Linked DNA regions of Homo sapiens. The protein of the gene in region 2 purifies or fractionates together with the protein of the main gene of each other region. This does not show direct contact. Each region holds a gene or a part of one and is shown on either strand. Other genes may lie near its edges.

Region 1 (3,730 bases), on a different chromosome or scaffold from region 2:
GGTAATATTCCCCAATTAATGTACAGATTAAACACAATCCTCTTCAAGAATCCCAGTGGACTTCTTGCAGAAATTGGCAAGCTGATCTTAAAATTTATACAAATTCAAGAAACCCAGAATAACCCAAATAATATTGAACAAGAAAAATGAAATTGAAGGAAAACACTTCCCAATTCCAAAAATTACTACAGAGCCCCAGGTAATTAAGACAATGTGGTATGGCATAGAAATAGACATATAGTCAATGGAATGGAACTTAAAGCCCAAAAATAAATCATCACATTTATGGTTAGTTGATTTTCAACAAGAATAGCAAGGCAGTTCAATGGGAGAAAGAATAGTTTTTTCAATAAATAGTACTGGGACAACTGGATATTTACAGGCAAAAGAATGAAACTAGACTCCTACTTCACACCACATTCAAAAATTATCTCAAAATGGGTCAAATATCTGAATATAAGAGTCAAAACTAGAAAACTCTTAGAACAAAACCTATGTGTAAATATTTGTGACCTTGGATCAGGCAACAGCTTCTTAGATATGACACCAAAGACAAAACAAATATTAACTGGACCTCATCAAAATAAAAAAACTTGTGTTGCAAAGGACATCAACAAGAAAGTGAAGAAATAACCCATACAATTAGAGAACATTTGTAAATCATTTGTCTGTCTTACTTTAAAAAGCAAAAAAAAAAAAAAAAAAAGATAACTCGACAAGCAAAAGATCTGAACAGACATTTCTCTAAAGAAGATATATAAATGGCCTATATAAATACATGAAAAGATGCTCAACACCATTAGCCAAAAAGGAAATGCAAATCAAAAGCACAATTAGATACCACTCCACATCCACTAGCATGTAATTCAAGGTGAATCATAGACCTAAATGGAAAAAAACCAAAAGCAAGCATAGGATAAAATCTTTGTCACTCTGAGTTAGGCAAAGATTTCTTAGATATGATATTCAATAGCATAAATGATAAATTGAATTTCATCAAAATTAGCAATCTGTGCTCTTTCAAAGACATTGTTAAGAGAATGAGAAGACAAGTGATGGACCTGGAGAAAATATGGGCAAAGCATGCGTCTTATAAAGGACTTGTACCAAGAATATATTTTAAAATGATCAAAATGAAATAATAACAAACACAACTCAATTAAAATGTGGGAAAAGGCCTGAACCCTTCAAATAAACACTTGAAAAAGATGCTCGGCCGGGCGCGGTGGCTCACGCCTGTAATCCCAGCACTTTGGGAGGCCGAGGCGGGCGGATCACGAGGTCAGGAGATCGAGACCATCCCGGCTAAAACGGTGAAACCCCGTCTCTACTAAAAATACAAAAAATTAGCCGGGCGTAGTGGCGGGCGCCTGTAGTCCCAGCTACTTGGGAGGCTGAGGCAGGAGAATGGCGTGAACCCGGGAGGCGGAGCTTGCAGTGAGCCGAGATCCCGCCACTGCACTCCAGCCTGGGCGACAGAGCGAGACTCCCGTCTCCACAAAAAAAAAAAAAAAAAAAAAAAAAAGATGCTCAACATTGTTAGTCATTAGGGAAATGCAAATCAAACCATAATAAGACACCACTACACAGAAGGGCTAAAAATAGAATGGCTAACATTAAAAAGAATGACCATACCAAGTGTTGTTAACGTGGAAGGACTAGAACTTTCATACACTGCTGATGGGAATATAAAATAGTTTTGTTAATAAGTTATGAACTTAACAAGTTAGATTATTTTCTTATTAAAAAAAAAAAAAAGACAGCATCTTGCTCTGTTACCAGAGCTGTAGCGCAGTGCCTCTATCATATTATAGCTCAATGTAGCCTAACTCCTGGGCTCAAGTGATCCTCCTGCCTCAGCTTCCCGAGTATCTGGGGCTACAAGTGGGAGCCACTACACCTGGTGGGATGGCTAATATTGAGTGTCAACTTGACTGAACTGAAGGATACAAAGTATTGTTCATGGGTGTGTCTGTGAGGGTGTTGCCAAAGGAAATTAACATTTGAGTCAGTGGACTGGGAGGGGTAGACCCACACTCAATCTGGTTGGGCACCATCTACTCAGCTGCCAGCGGGGGTAGAATAAAGCAGGCAGGAGAAGATGGAAGGGCTGACTTGCTGAGTCTTATGGACTTCATCTTTCTCCCATGCTGGATGCTTCCTGACCTAGAACATCAGACTCCAAGTTCTTTAGCTTTTGGACTCTTGGACTTACACCAGTGGTTTTCCAGGGGCTCTTGGGCCTTTGGCTGCACAGACTGAAGGCTGCACTGTTAGCTTCCCTACTTTTGGGACTCGTACTGATCCACCACTGGCTTCCTTGCTCCTCAACTTGCTGATGACCTATCATGGGACTTCACCTTGTGATGGTGTGAGTCAATTCTCCTTAATAAACTCCCTTTCATATATACATATATCCTCTTAGTTCTGTCCCTCTAGAGAACCCAGACTAATACACTTGGCTAATTAAAAAAAAATCTTTTTTTAGAGAGAGAGTCTTGCTATGTAGTCCAGGCCAAGTTTCTTAATAAGTGAGTAAGCCTACTCATATGATCCAGCCATTCCATTCCTAGATATTTACCTAAAAGAAATGAAAGCACATATTCATACTATTAAAATAAGATGGAGACCAGGTCTGTAAATCCCCTGGACAAAGCCAGTTAAGCCATTAAAACAACCTTGACCTTGCAAATATAAGCAATAGAAGCAAAACTTAATTTGGGCTGTTTGCAAATGTAAACTTTGGTTATTTTTTGTCTGTGCCTATATTAAAGAAAAATCAGGCTGGGCATGGTGGCTCATGCCTGTAAGCACCTTGGGAGGTTGAAGCAGGAGGATCACTTGAGGCCAGAATTTGAGATCAGCCTGGGCAATATAGCTAGCGAGACCTTGCCTCTATAAGAAATTAAAAAATTAGCCAGGCGTGGCGATGCATGTCTGTAGTTCATGTTGCCCTGGTTACTTGAGAGGCTGAGGTGGGAGGATCACTTGAGCCCAGGAGTTCAAAGCTGCAGTGAGCTACGATCGCACCAAAGCACTCTAGCCCTGTCTCTTAAAAAAAAAAAAAAAAAAAAAAAAGAAACAAACAAACTTAGGCTACGCCAATTAGAAGCCATCAACTAACTTACATAACTAGGGACTTTCCAATAGGATGGACTAAACAAGGCAACTATATAAATATAATTAATCAAATATTTTCTTTGCCTTGTTTCCTTGTTCATCCTATAGAAGTCTTCCACTTGCATTCCTTTGGTGGAGTCCCAAATCACTTTTGATTTGTTGCTGTCTGATTCATGAATTGCTGTTTGCTCAGACAAAACTCTTTAAAATTTTATTCTGCCTCAGTTTATACTTTAACAATACCAAAACTTGTACACAAATGTTCATAGCAGCTTCTAGGTGTAGAGCCCAAAACCAGAAACAACCCAGGGTCCACCAACAGGTGAATGGACAAACTGTAGTAAAACAGATACACAATGGAACACTGCTTAGCAATAAAAAGGAATAAACTCTGACACATGCTTCACCATGGATAAATATCAACAATTACTCTGAGTAATAGGAGCCAGGCAACAGAAGTACTTACTATATGATTCTATTTATATAAAATTTTAGAAAATGCAAGGTAATTTGTAGTTAACTGAAAGTAAATCAGTCAATGATTGCCTGTGGGAGGTGGTACCAGGAAGGAATTATAAAAAGGGGTGAAAAAACTTTTGGGAGTAATGGA
Region 2 (3,500 bases):
CCCAGAACTTCTGGCCTCTTGGTTCTTGTCTAATCACATTTTATATCACCCAGTGGTCAGGGAGGTAGGTGGCCTGTCTCTTCCAGTAGACCCCAAGCCGGGGTTGGGCCCTGCAGGCAGGACCTGGAGCTGAGTCATCTCACTGCAAGGGCCTGCACAGTGCCCAGCCCACAGCGGATCCCTAACAGGAGAGGCATGGAAGGGGTTGAGGACTACTAGGGAGCCTCTGTGAGGCACACTCCTGTCTCAATGAGATATGTACCTTCAAGGCGGCCCCCCAGGCTTGTCGGAGGGCAACAGGTGCCAGGGCCCTTGAGGGCATAAGGCAAGACCACATATGGAGGGTAGGATGGAGGAGAAATATCTACTAGGACCCAATTTCGAGCAGTGCTTCTCAACTTTAGGGTGCACTCAAATCCCCTGGGGATCTTAAGATACAGACTCTGATTCACTGGGTTTGGCATGAGACCTGAGATTCTGAATTTCTAGTGAGCTCCCACGTGATGCAGATGCTATGGGTCCTTGGACCACATTTGAGACACAAAGGTTTGGAACACTCTCTTAGGTCAGAATTGACATCCCAAGCACCTGGGCCGTACAGAGGAATTCCTATGATGCTGTGAGCAGGAGCCCCAGTACCTGTTTCTCCTCCAAGTGCTCATGGATGCCTCCCCTACCATCTCATCTCTCACTTTCAAGAGGGAGGAGGCAGAAGAGCTGATGCTCATGAGATTGACCCTGAGGACTGAGGGCCCAGGAGAAGTCCACCCGACCCTAATTTCCCAGTGAAACCTTAGACAAGGGTTGACCTCACAATCCTAAGACCTGTCCTCTGACCCCACAGGTAAGAGGCGCCTCTTGAATATCCCTTAAGATAGAACTGCTCTGTCTGGTTCTTGTGTCCAGCGCATTTAACACAAGGCGCACATGCTGATATTCACCTATGTCAACTGCAAGTGATTTTGAGAGCCTCCTGGATGCCAGGCGTCGGGCAGGACATAATAATGCAGGTGGTATCTCTGGCCTCAAGGAATAACTTCACCAAATAAAACAGTAGGGGATGCATCTTCTGGATGCATTTTCAGGGGCATTTCACAGAGGTGCTGAGAATGCCCTCCTTTAGAGGACAGCACTTGACTCTCATTTGTAGAGAACAGACAGACCCAAGAGCCCTTGGTCAGACAGGGAGATGAAGACCCTGAGAGGATCAGGGACTTTGTCCGAGGTCCCACAGCCACATGGTGATCAGGACCAGATGTGACACCAGGGCCCACTACACAGACTATCTGCTACTTGCACAGGCAAGAGGCCTCTCCCGGGCCCAGCCAACCACCTGGTTCAGAGGGTCCCTCTAGGGTGAAGGACACAGATCCTGACAACACCTGGGGCTTGGCCCCTTCCCATGCCAACAGAGACCCCCAAAGCATTAGGTAGTGGGCATCCCCAAGAAGGAAGAACAGCTGCAGGAAGGCCTGTTCACATGCCAGGACCTCCCTTAAAGAGGAGCAAGAATCAAATATGTTTTGTTCAAACACAAGGCTTATAAAAGATGTGCCTGAGTGAGGAGGCGAGAAGGTGAGACTCGGCTTCTGAATATGCCTTCTGAGAGACAACCAGGGAGTGTCTCGCTGGCCAGCAGCAGTGTAACTAAGCCTGATGAACCGGGTCAGCCGCCCATAGCTCTCACAAGAGGAATCTCAGGACTTACGTGACTTACTCACCAGCTTGGATGGCCAGGAAATTGTAGAGTTCATGCAGCAGCTCCAGCAAGGCTGCCTTCTGCTTGGCCTGACAGAACTGGAAAGGCACGGGACAAGTGGTCAGCAAGGAGGGGTGGGTGGGAGGGGTCCGTCTGTCCATCTTTACTTCTCCAGCCACACTGTCAAATACTAAACAGCAAGGAATATCTCATACTTTTACAAAATAGAAAAAAATTCTGCCAAGTGCTGGGCCTAGGGAGAGAGTTGATAAATATTGGGTTAACTGCCTGAGAAAGACCCTGGAGAAGCAGAGGCAAAGCTGAAAGCAGACACTGTAACCAAGGGGCTGCATCCCAGAGGCTCCTGGCTCCTGCCTTTCCCTTGGAATGACGGCCATTAAGAGGGCTGAGCAGAGGCGACGTGGTCGGGGGATGATGCAGTCGCTCAGCTTCCTCAGAGGAAGAGCAACTGCTGTCGGAGTTTGCAGAGATGGGAGAGCTGGAAGAGCTAGGAGAGCTTGCAGACAGGGCAGAATGTCAGCAGCTGCCATCTCGTCTCCCGTTAGGTGGAATCTCAGAGCCCTCATCTGAGTAAGGATTGTGGTAGGATTCAGTGCGAACTCACACAAACCACTCAGCAGAGGCTGCTACCACCTAAAGGAAACAGGAGGACAGACGGTACCAGACAACGAGACGGCCTGATTAAGACAACACACCCACTCCCAGCCTGTCCCCACGTTTTCAGCAGCACAAAGGCAGAAAGAAAAACACAAAGTGTCACCGTCTTCAACGACCGAAAAGGGAAAGAACATGAATCTGAAATTCAAATGCCCGTCTGTGATCTCGGTAAGCCTGGAGCCATGCAAAGAATAAGACTTTCAGCAAGAGCCTCACCAAAGCCAAGAAACACGTCCCCACCTGCTTGTTCCTGTGTCCACCCTCCAGAAAGGCCAAGGGTGCCCCATGAAATCTTAGCTCCACAAAGCCTGCATTGAGATGGCCCAGCCCCTGCTTTCTGATGCTCTGATGAAGGTCTGAATGGTTACAAATAGGGATATCTGCGTCTGAAGCCCTCGCTGGCAGGTGCTGAATGCCGTCTGCCCACGGAGCGCATCTGTAGCTAGGACCTGGAGGGTACCTGTCTGGGCTCACTCAAGTGGAGCCTGAGTGTGTCCAGATCAGAGAAGGCCAGGGAACAAATGTGCCATTCACTTGTGGGTCTGATTCATTTAGAGATGTGAAGGACCAAGAAATAGAAACCATGGAACTTTTTTCTAATTAAAAGACAAAACTAACAGCACTGAGAAGTCTTACAGAAAGTTATTTTTTCCTGTTTTTGTTTTAAGTCTTCAAATTCCAGTTTCCCCTCTGGCTGCCTGTGTTTCTGGGCCACTTCCTCTCATCATCAACTACAGTTTTTATGATAGAAGGCAGATTAAACTTACTATGAATCTGTTTTTACAAAACAATTGGGAAGCAAAGATATTTGGTGGATGAATCCAATAAATGGATGTAATAAAACACCCCCAACTATGACACACCCGAAGCCAAAGAGAAATAAAAGCCGTTATCTGCACCAGGATGCCCCCTCATTTACATGAGTAAGACAGTCAATGCAGGGCTGGCCAGAGGACCATGCGTCATTTTCTTTCCCAGCCCCTGGGCTACTAGAGATGTTAACTAAGGACTTGGGAGGCCAGGCATTGCACACTTAATTAGACTACTAAGTCATGCCCTCTGGCAGCACAAGACTCCTCCTGGTACAATTTAAGACCTGAAAATTTACTGCCCCATATCTTCT
Region 3 (3,730 bases), on a different chromosome or scaffold from region 2:
CTTTCAGAATTAGGTAAAGCAAATCTTTAAGCAGTACAAAGAATCAGGTACTCACAATTATGTAATTATAAACCTTACATACACATCAAATACCTTTACAATGTGATATATTTGCACCTATGTCCAGTTCTAGGTGAGGGGAGAAAATGACTGGTGTAATCACAAGCACTAGAGAGATACAGAAAACCATGCTGTACTCAAAGAGCCACTTCCAGCTCTACCTAAGCTAAAAGAAACCAGCTGTTTGGCAATTCAGTAATCTTGAAAGTTCTCTACCTATGTCCACAAGTTTCTTTTCCTTATTTGAGATAGGGTCTCCCTGTCGCCCAGGCTGGAGTGCTATGGCACGATCACAGCTCACTGCAGCCTTGAACTCTTGGGCTCAAGTGATCCTCTTGCCTCAGCCTCCCAAGTAGCTGGGACTATAGGTGTGTGCCAAAATGCCTGGCTTTTTTAAACTTTATTTTTTGTAGAGATGGGGTCCCGCTATTTCACCCAGACTGGTCTTGAACTCATGGGTTCAAACAATCTTCCCGCCTTGGCCTCCCAAAGTGTTGGGCTTACAAGGGATGAGCCACAGTGCCTGGCCTATACATATTTTCAGTAATAAAAGTATTTGTGGTTGATTAGTCCCCAAGAAGCTTTTCTTCCCATTTATAATTATAGAGACAATTATAATACAACTTTAATTATGCCCAGATCTAAAGAATGTGAATTCATGGCAATAAGATCACTTTTGTGCTTTATTTTTCATGGAACCCAAATATTTAAAATGTACTCTTAGTATTTTCATTCAGGTTTTATATTACTTAACTGTTGGGGTGACTAACTGTCATGGTTTTCCCACGACTGAGGGGTCTTCTTAGGAAGTAGGACTTTCAGTGCTAAAACTGGGCGGGACAGACCCTATGGCTGTGACTTAGTACTTCCACCTTTACTTGAAAGATTTTGTAACATTCCTTAATTTCTACTAAATCTTAGTTTTGATTCCCAAATGTTTTTAAAGATTTAGCTAGTATTACAACTCACCACTGTTAGCAAGAGCTGTGTGCTACAACATAATGAAGAGTGTAAATTTTTCAAAGGTATTCACTTAGTCAATTTCTGTATCTATTTTTACTACTACACAACAGAGAAGTCAGACTTATTTCAAAGATTTCAAACTTGAAAATATAAATTACCTGAAAATTTCTACAAAATCCAATTATCTCCCAAGATCTGAAGAGAATTAATTTTATGGTAGAACTATATTTCAGTTAATTTGATTATCTACATGACTAGACAGGAATAAAGATAGGATTATTTCCAAACAACAAACATATCCTATTCATTTCTTATATTCTCATAACTTAGTACTCTATGTACTAAAAATGTATTAATCTAGATTTTCAGTCATTTAAGTATACAGTATATAAACCTACGCATCTATACACTTAAGATATCTTGTAAATCAATTGTCAAATGAATAACTGGTTTGCATCTGCTGAGCATACATTGCCTGGATAATAGAGTCAAAACTGTTGGGATTATCTAATAAATTATCAAAGATTTAAAAATTACAGGTAATTCTGAATTGGATACAATTTAAGAGAACAGTTAATTTCCTTTTAATTTTATAAAACAATTTATTTCCTTTTAAACTATGAAAATCCAAGAGAGATTTCTTGTTAAGAAAATCACGTATGCATAAATGCTGAACTAGTAGCTTCTATAGGAAATTATGTTGTTAAGTCAGATGGGAACCATAATGGCCTCATCCCTGAAGCAATCATTGTTAATATAAATCCCAAACATATTTCTATATGGTTCCAATTTACTCCAATGTGTTTCACCATCCTGTCAAAATTACTAGATATCAAATAAGCAAGATTTATATGCTCAAAACTGACAAAAATCAGCGTTCTAAATATATATGGCAATTGAGAGTAGCTAAATCTACGGAATCTTTTAAATTAAAAAATATTGCCCATTCTGATGAAACTGCTTATAATGACTACAAGTAAAGATGGTGGCCATTAAGTTTTATCGTGAGCACCTGAGGAACTGTTTGCATCCAATACAAAATGTTTCTTTCTTTTGAATTACTGACACTGGCAAATTAAAATGAAGTGGATACATATGGTTGAAACAATCTTCACATTTACTAATATCCTGAAATATCACTAAATCATAAAGACTAAAACTGTGGGTTATATATTATAAATGTTGCCTAATGCATTCCCAACTCTGTTGTTTGTTACAAATTTGTATACTATGGACAAAATTGGCCATTTATTCAAGAGTAACAGCTGGTTCCAACACTGTGCATCTTATCAAAAAAGAAGGACATTACAAAAAGGAAAAGGCACAATTAACCTTTAAAATGCTGAAAACAAAAGAATCTCATTCTTTGGGAAAACATTTAGCAGGAAATTTACAAGCAGATAATTTAACTACTGTTCCCGTTTTAACATTTTTATAAACTAACTAGATATCTCAATATAAAGGTTTACAACAATAAAAACGTTACACAATGCTGACATTATCTAAGAAAGAACAATAGGATCTGATACCTTAAAGGGATATCATATATTGTTAAAGGCAGTCAGCTGATTTTAAAAAGAAAAATATCATCATTAATGAACGGAGGCTGGGAAAAAAGTAGTGTTTCACCCTGTCAATCTAAGACAAAGTGTTATCCTGAGAAGATGAACAAAATATCATCAAGTACTTACAGTATATTTTAAATTATTAGCTAATCCATTTTGTTGATCTATAGTAACGCTTAGGAAAAAAGCTAGAAACAGGAAAACTCAAACTCTCTAGATTCTAAAAAATTATACCTCTCTACTGCATTCTATAATAACCTTACAGAAATTCTGATATTTAATCTTGAATATTAGAAGCACAGTCTCCATTTTTAAAGTAGCAGCTCAGTTCACTCTGACGGTATTTCACTGACGTAGCCTAAGGCTATAGGTAATGGAACATTACTCACTATGATAGCCAGATTTCTTCTGCATGGCGGTTACAGGGCAATCTTTATGAGCCAGAAGAAGCTGTTTCAGCTGTGCCACTTCATTTCTCAGCAGGGTGACTTCACTCTGGAGAAGAAACAACTTATGTACCTTACCACAGACTAAACATATTTTTTACTATTTAAAACAAGCAAGGATTAAAGTATAAAATTGGACATCACTGGCAGAACATTAAAAACAAAGAAAATATGCTGATTAAATATGTCTAATCAGCACAGGGCAGCTTTTATATTTTAGCATTTATTAAAAAGCTGTAACTTGAATAAAAATTTAAGATAATGCCACAGCTGGATAGCATATTTCAAAATTGTTTCCATTTCCCTGGGACTTCTTATATATTATTGGTGACCTGTTGAAAGTATTTTTATTTTATATATGTTGCATGCTCTTCTGATTATTTAAAAAGAAACATCAAGGGAGTCAGGATGAATTTTCACTGATTCCATTCACCTAAAAATGAAAAAAATCATCCTAGAAATTCAAATAAGCAAGTTTCCAGTTTCCTAGAAACCAAGAAAAGCTCCACAGGGGAAACCAAAATAACCAAAGAATCATGGATACCTAAAATTCACTGCAAGGCACTCTTGCTGGACACTGAAACCAATGAAACTAGATATAACATTTAAATGGCTTAGCTGCCTTTGACCCAGGCAATTTGTACACATCTAAATTTAAATCTGCTAAGTCAATGGAGATTTGTCCTAATCTTCAGA

Evidence for each region.
Region 1: the proteins of LEMD2 (region 2) and CSGALNACT2 purify together in Homo sapiens (co-immunoprecipitation; one large-scale study listed by IntAct). This does not show direct contact.
Region 3: the proteins of LEMD2 (region 2) and ATF2 purify together in Homo sapiens (co-immunoprecipitation; one large-scale study listed by IntAct). This does not show direct contact.

The regions. Positions count from the first base shown.
Region 1 is NC_000010.11:43,144,759-43,148,488, reverse strand, and holds part of CSGALNACT2 (chondroitin sulfate N-acetylgalactosaminyltransferase 2), read right to left. Parts: intron 1-3,730. UniProt on the Homo sapiens protein: Transfers 1,4-N-acetylgalactosamine (GalNAc) from UDP-GalNAc to the non-reducing end of glucuronic acid (GlcUA). Required for addition of the first GalNAc to the core tetrasaccharide linker and for elongation of chondroitin chains.
Region 2 is NC_000006.12:33,782,631-33,786,130, forward strand, and holds part of LEMD2 (LEM domain-containing protein 2), read right to left. Parts: intron 1,890-3,500; coding exon of another isoform or gene 1,863-1,889; exon of another isoform or gene 1,831-1,862; intron 1,798-1,830; coding exon 1,722-1,797; intron 1-1,721. UniProt on the Homo sapiens protein: Nuclear lamina-associated inner nuclear membrane protein that is involved in nuclear structure organization, maintenance of nuclear envelope (NE) integrity and NE reformation after mitosis.
Region 3 is NC_000002.12:175,077,683-175,081,412, forward strand, and holds part of ATF2 (cyclic AMP-dependent transcription factor ATF-2), read right to left. Parts: intron 3,084-3,730; coding exon 2,978-3,083; intron 1-2,977. UniProt on the Homo sapiens protein: Transcriptional activator which regulates the transcription of various genes, including those involved in anti-apoptosis, cell growth, and DNA damage response.